Linked DNA regions of Homo sapiens. The protein of the gene in region 1 purifies or fractionates together with the protein of each later gene. This does not show direct contact. Each region holds a gene or a part of one and is shown in the gene's direction. Other genes may lie near its edges.

The links.
Region 2: the proteins of SULT1A1 (region 1) and UBE4B fractionate together in Homo sapiens (co-fractionation; one large-scale study listed by BioGRID). This does not show direct contact.

Annotation. Positions count from the first base shown.
Region 1 is NC_000016.10:28,607,829-28,611,578, reverse strand, and holds the start of SULT1A1 (sulfotransferase 1A1), read left to right. Parts: upstream 1-1,534; 5' UTR 1,535-1,648; exon of another isoform or gene 1,649-2,719; 5' UTR 2,720-2,723; coding exon 2,724-2,871; intron 2,872-2,975; coding exon 2,976-3,101; intron 3,102-3,190; coding exon 3,191-3,288; intron 3,289-3,750. UniProt on the Homo sapiens protein: Sulfotransferase that utilizes 3'-phospho-5'-adenylyl sulfate (PAPS) as sulfonate donor to catalyze the sulfate conjugation of a wide variety of acceptor molecules bearing a hydroxyl or an amine group.
Region 2 is NC_000001.11:10,178,750-10,181,790, forward strand, and holds the end of UBE4B (ubiquitin conjugation factor E4 B), read left to right. Parts: coding exon 1-69; intron 70-666; coding exon 667-813; intron 814-1,145; coding exon 1,146-1,207; 3' UTR 1,208-2,490; downstream 2,491-3,041. UniProt on the Homo sapiens protein: Ubiquitin-protein ligase that probably functions as an E3 ligase in conjunction with specific E1 and E2 ligases. May also function as an E4 ligase mediating the assembly of polyubiquitin chains on substrates ubiquitinated by another E3 ubiquitin ligase.

The DNA of each region.
Region 1 (3,750 bases):
CTGACCTTTATGGGCTTCTTCAACTAAAGAGGGGTATATTCATGAAGAGTCCAGGAAAAGGTAAAGATTTCTCAAGACCGTGGTGCCACAATTTACACCCAAATACAGGTGTTCCTGGAGCCGTCTTGGCACTGGTGGGTGTACGGTTTCATATGTTACTGATCATACAATGAGATCCTAGGTGAAACCTACATCAAATACAGCGCCATGTTGTGTCTGGTTGGTCGTAGCCAGCTTGGTCCTCATCCTATTTTTCAGGGACTTATTGGCCCTTAGCGCATGCAGCTATTTCAAGTTTCCTTCTTCTCCTCATGTGAAACTGCTGCCTGGGATTTTGTATTCACTTGCTACCACTCTATTAATCTCACATTCTCGCCTCTTTTCTGTGTCACCCCGTGTGGGTCCGACAGGTTGTTACTAGAGTGCAATACAAAGTCTTAGTCAAGGGAACCTCCTGAGGGTTGCTGAGGGCAGGGGTGGAGCTAGTAGCCTGAGGACCTGCCAGTCACGGGGATTCCTCATGGGCACAGAGGAGGGAGGAGGGGTCCATGGCCCTAGCATATGAGAAGCCTCTCCTCTGCCTGGAATTCCCATGCCTCAGCTTCCCCCACACTCCCACCTGTCCGCTTGCCTCTGAACTCACGCATTTCTTGGAAGTCTTGGGAGATTCACCTTTACTCAGATGGTTGTTTACCTGTCTCGTGCACAGCTTGACCTTGGACTTTAAAGTGAGGATAAAGAACGAGGAGGATGGGGGGATGCCCCCCTTCCACGGGGCCCTGTGGCTTCCAAACCTCGGCCTCCTCTGGTCTCTTGTCTGTGGAGCCTCCTTCAAACCCAGGGAAATAAAACCACCTGCCACGGGTTGTGGTTCTTCTAGGATCTTCTATCAATGTTCTCTGAGGTCCCCAGGAGCCATGAAGCTGGGGCTGACTCCCAGGGCAATGGGACTGCAGTGTCCTTGTTCTTTCTTGTTCTATGCATCCATGCTCTGCTCCACCCCTGCCCCTTCACTCTGCCCACACACATCCCTCTAGACTGGCCTTGTGGTCAGAGCCTGGAGTGCATGGGCTGCTGGGGGCCTGTGGGCTGCACTGGGCCAGAACCCCTGGCACCTTCAAGACTGGCCTGGAGCCAGCAGGTAGGTGACCTTTCCAGGGCCTGCCTATCCCAGCTTTCTCCTCCAATCCCTCCCCTCTCTTGCCTGGGTCAATTAGAGAGAGCTTGTCTGTTGGCTGCCTGGCAGGGTGGAGTTCAGGGGCAGGTCAGGAGCCCAGTGACAGCTCGGAAAAAAAAAAAAAAAAAAAAAAAAAACAGAAAAAAAAAACCTACAAAAACAAACCCACCATTGGGCCTTTCCCCTTTCATTCTTCTGTTTTCTACACAGCAAACTCAGTCGTGGCTTTGGAGATCACTTTAAGCTTGTCTCCAGCTGGCACACTAAGGAGGGTAATGGAGAAGCTCCCCCACCCCCAACCCCACCCCTTCCTTCCGGAAGCAAATCTAAGTCCAGCCCCGGCTCCAGATCCCTCCCACAGTGGACCTAGGAAACCCTCAGCTCAGAGAACAACCCTGCATTCCCCACACAACACCCACAATCAGCCACTGCGGGCGAGGAGGGCACGAGGCCAGGTTCCCAAGAGCTCAGGTGAGTGACACAGTGGAACGGCCCAGGGCGCCCTCACCCTGCTCAGCTTGTGGCTCTAACATTCCAGAAGCTGAGGCCTCTGGCATCCCTGCCCTTTCCCCATGGATATCCCATTTCAGACAACCCTGGCCTGCGTGAATCCCCCTCCCTTCCCTTGTTTGTTTGTTTTTTTCCCCGGGGAGGCCAGGTCTTGCTGTCACCCAGGCTGGAGTGCTGTGGGATCCTGGCCACTGCAGCCTTGAATTCCTGGGCTCAAGTGATTCTCTTGCCTCAGCCTCTGGAGTAGCTAGGACTACAGGCCCTCATCATCCTGCCTGGTTAATGTTTAAGAATTTTTTTAAAGATTTTTAGAGATGGGGTCTTGCAATGCTGCACCAGGTTGGTCTCCAACTCCTGGCCTCAGCCTCCCTAGGGTCTGGGATTATAGGTGGGAGCCACCCTGCCTAGGCCTGTGCTTTTGCTGAGTCATCAGAGTTTTGTTCATTCCCACAGCAGCTCTGGCCCCTAGTAGCAGCTCAGTTCCTCAATGGGCCGTGTTTGTCCTGGAGCCCAGATGGACTGTGGCCAGGCAAGTGGATCACAGGCCTGGCTGGCCTGGGCGGTTTCCACATGTGAGGGGCTGAGGGGCTCAAGGAGGGGAGCATCTCCACTGGGTGGAGGCTGGGGGTCCCAGCAGGAAGTGGTGAGACAAAGGGCGCTGGCTGGCAGGGAGACAGCACAGGAAGGTCCTAGAGCTTCCTCAGTGCAGCTGGACTCTCCTGGAGACCTTCACACACCCTGACATCTGGGCCTTGCCCGACGAGGGTGCTTTCACTGGTCTGCACCATGGCCCAGGCCCTGGGATTTTGAACAGCTCCGCAGGTGAATGAAAGGTGAGGCCAGGCTGGGGAACCACCGCATTAGAGCCCGACCTGGTTTTCAGCCCCAGCCCCGCCACTGAGTGGCTTTGTGAGTGCGGGCAAGTCACTCAGCCTCCCTAGGCCTCAGTGACTTCCCTGAAAGCAAGAATTCCACTTTCTTGCTGTTGTGATGGTGGTAAGGGAACGGGCCTGGCTCTGGCCCCTGACGCAGGAACATGGAGCTGATCCAGGACACCTCCCGCCCGCCACTGGAGTACGTGAAGGGGGTCCCGCTCATCAAGTACTTTGCAGAGGCACTGGGGCCCCTGCAGAGCTTCCAGGCCCGGCCTGATGACCTGCTCATCAGCACCTACCCCAAGTCCGGTAAGTGAGGAGGGCCACCCACCCTCTCCCAGGTGGCAGTCCCCACCTTGGCCAGCGAGGTCGTGCCCTCAGCCTGCTCACCTCCCATCTCCCTCCCTCTCCAGGCACTACCTGGGTAAGCCAGATTCTGGACATGATCTACCAGGGTGGTGACCTGGAGAAGTGTCACCGAGCTCCCATCTTCATGCGGGTGCCCTTCCTTGAGTTCAAAGCCCCAGGGATTCCCTCAGGTGTGTGAGTGTGTCCTGGGTGCAAGGGGAGTGGAGGAAGACAGGGCTGGGGCTTCAGCTCACCAGACCTTCCCTGACCCACTGCTCAGGGATGGAGACTCTGAAAGACACACCGGCCCCACGACTCCTGAAGACACACCTGCCCCTGGCTCTGCTCCCCCAGACTCTGTTGGATCAGAAGGTCAAGGTGAGGCAGGGCACAGTGTTTCACATCCATAATCCCAGCACTTTGGGAGGCTGAGGCAGGCAGATCACCTGAGGTTGGGAGTTTGAGAGCACCCTGAGCAACATAGAAGAACCTTGTCTCTACTAAAAATACAAAATTAGCCGGGTGTGGTGGCGGGTGCCTGTAATCCCAGCTACTCCGAAGCCTGAGACAGGAGAATCACTTGAACCCGGGAGAAGGAGGTTGTGGTGAGCCAGAGATCCCACCATTGCATTCCAGCCTGAGCAACAAGAGCAAAACTCACAAAAATAAATAAATAAATAAATATATAAATAAAAATAAAACTGTGGCACCTGTGGTGGCTCACTGCTGTAATGCCAGCACTTTGGGAGGCCAAATTGGGTGGATCACTTGAGCTCAGGAGTTACAGACCAGCCCGGGAAACATGGGGAGTCTCCATCTCTATAAAAATGCAAAATATCA
Region 2 (3,041 bases), on another chromosome or scaffold:
TGGAGGAGATAGTGGCCAAGAACGCACGCGCAGAAATCGACTACAGCGACGCTCCTGATGAGTTCAGAGGCAAGTGGACTCGTCGTTTTCATGCTGATTTCTTTTGAGTTAACTGGAAATCGATAACATTACAAGAGGACGTCCTGTGCAATTAATTTTTTAATGGTGTGCTAGAGCTGCTTTTTGAGACAATCTGTCTTAAATTACATTTGCCTATTTTTAGCTCATATTGTAAATTGAGAGGAAGAAACATCCTTAGCTTAGCCTGACTTAAAGCCAGATAACAACCCTGAAGATTCTAAGGGCAGGGCTGCCTTTGCAAGTGGGGATTCACATTTTCAAAGAATTCCCAGAAGTCCTAAGACAAAGAATTCCAGCCTGCCGTCCTCGCCACGGAGCCTGTGGGGCCTGCTGCTGGGTCTGTCCCAGGCTTTCTTCTCTGTTCCCTCCCCCCAGCAGTAGCTGACAAAGAAGCGCCTTCCCCTTACAAAAGGCAATGTATATGCCTTTATTGAAGGCTGATTTCCTTCTAAACCTGGGGGCCTCACAGGGGCCCTTTGATTGCTGTTCCTTTGGATAGATTTTTCGCTGGTAGAACGGGCTTTGTTTTCTTTTTCAGTCGTGGGCTCTCAGTAGATTAGAGTTTGCTTTGCTTTGTCCCCGCAGACCCTCTGATGGACACCCTCATGACAGACCCCGTGCGGCTGCCCTCTGGCACCATCATGGACCGCTCCATCATCCTGCGGCACCTGCTCAACTCCCCCACGGACCCCTTCAACCGGCAGACGCTGACAGAGAGCATGCTGGAACCAGGTAGAGGAGGGTGCAGTTTGAGGTGCAGCGCTGGCGTCAGTACCAAGAGATAAAGCCCAAGTCACATATTGGAGATGAAGCAGAAGGGAAATTTATCAAATGCAGAAACTACCTACTTTATGACACTCTGTAGCAAAGACCCAAAACACTCTTGGCCCTTTTTCCCTGCAGACATCCAGTCCCTCCCTCTCATGTCCCAGTCCTTCTGGAGTCTTCGGCTCAATGAGGGAAAGAATGGCCTTTTCTTCCCATTTATACAGAGCGACAAGCATCCTCTCTCAGGAAGAGCCCTCCCATCTGGGGCATTAATCCTCCTTTTTTTCTTTTCTCAGTGCCAGAACTGAAAGAGCAGATTCAGGCGTGGATGAGAGAGAAACAGAACAGCGATCACTAAACCGTTCCGCCGCCCACCCTCTGCTAGACACAGCCAAGGCCAACGAGGCAAGCAGAAGCAGCGGCCGCAGCGAAGCTGCCGTTCATGTGTTGGAGGCCAAATGTGGCAAACCAACCCCAGGCCCACCCAGAGCGAGCAAACGCTGAGACCTGAAAGGACATGGATGAGAAGAGGAGCCCGCTTCCTGTACATATATTTAAGTGACAAACACGGTCAAAAGCTTAAGGGACAGGTTTTATGGTTGCTTGTGTAATAAAGCATGTCCTTCGTATGTCACAGTTTGGGGCAACGGAAGTCTTTTAGTGATGGCTAATGGGTCTGGGCAGCATCCCTTCATGAATTTTTTTTTAATCCAATATCCGTTGATTTGATTGTGATTAGAGAACCTTGGACATTTTGCTGCTAAAGAATCTTTTTTCCCCTCTCCCCCTTCCTGACCCTACTTGCACTGCTGTGGATTTTTTTAAGAGAAGCAAAAACAAAAGTAAACTCCTTTCCCTGGCCCTCCAAACATATATTCTGTGAGATAACTGTGCCTGCTACCAAGTGTTAATCCTGGGATCGTATTTTTATATCATATTCACATATTTGTTTTTTTAATTGGTGTTAGATGACATGATTAATAAAAAAGGCAAGATATTTTCAGAATTTGAATTTCAGTTTTTTTTTTCTTTTGAAATGTCCCTTTAAGATTTTTTTATTCTAAACAAAATAAAGAAAATCCTGCTGCTCTGGTCCTTGTGATAAGCCTCTCTTCGGCATCTGAGGAGCAGCTGCAGCAAAATCTAGGGGTGTAAGTGTATCAGGACTTATGTGACTTATATTTTGGGGAGATGAGGGTTGGGTTTTTTTTTTAATGCTACGTGACAGTTTGAAACCTTCACAGTTATCCTCTGGGGGTAAATCAATTCTTCAACCCTTGGGTGTGTGAGTTTGAGGCAGGGTCATTTGTGTGATGTGTTTGGCCTTACCAAAGCAAAAGAGGGTGCAAGAATGTGGGAGTATGTCTGCCGGTTTCAACACACACAGACAAACACAGCCACACGCGCACACAAGTATAAGACTTTTTGTATTACTGCTCCCTACTTAACATACTTGAATTCTCAAATTTCCTTTGGGGTAAAAAAAAAAAAAGGATTTGAAACCATAAAGTGTTCTGAAGAAATTAAGTCTATAAAAAGCATACTTTCTTTTTTCTTTTCCTTTTTTCCCTCCACAGACAATGTCCTCTGTTCAATTCCTAACGCAAACTACAATAAATGGTGACACACGTTCAGAAGAAATCTTCTTTGAGTCTCTTCTCTTTTGTGGAAAAAAAAAAAGGGCAGGGCGGGTGGGTAAACAAGAGCCAAGTGAGTTTGCATGTGGTGAATGATCTTTCCTGGATCCAATTAGGAGCTGCTATTTTTAAAAGAAAACTTTCTTATTCATGTCAGTCTCGACATTTGGTTCTCATTTCACTGTTTGCTGATTTGAGGGGGTAAGCTTTGTCATATTCAGTCTTCTGCCTTTCTTGAGTTTCTTCTGCTTTATCTCAAGTATCTTCCCTGACCTTCAAGATTCTTCCTCAGGCCGGGCCCGGTGGCTCACGCCTGTAATCCCAGCACTTTGGGAGGCTGAGGCGGATGGATCACCTGACGTCAGGAATTCGAGACCAGCCTGGCCAGCATGGTGAAACCCCATCTCTACTAAAAATACAAAAAATTAGCCGGGCGTAGTGGCAGCGCCTGTAGTCCCAGCTACTCGGGAGGCTGAGACAGGAGAATTGCTTGAACCTGGGAGGTGGAGGTTGCAGTGAGCCGAGATGACGTCATCACACTCCAGCCTGGGTGAC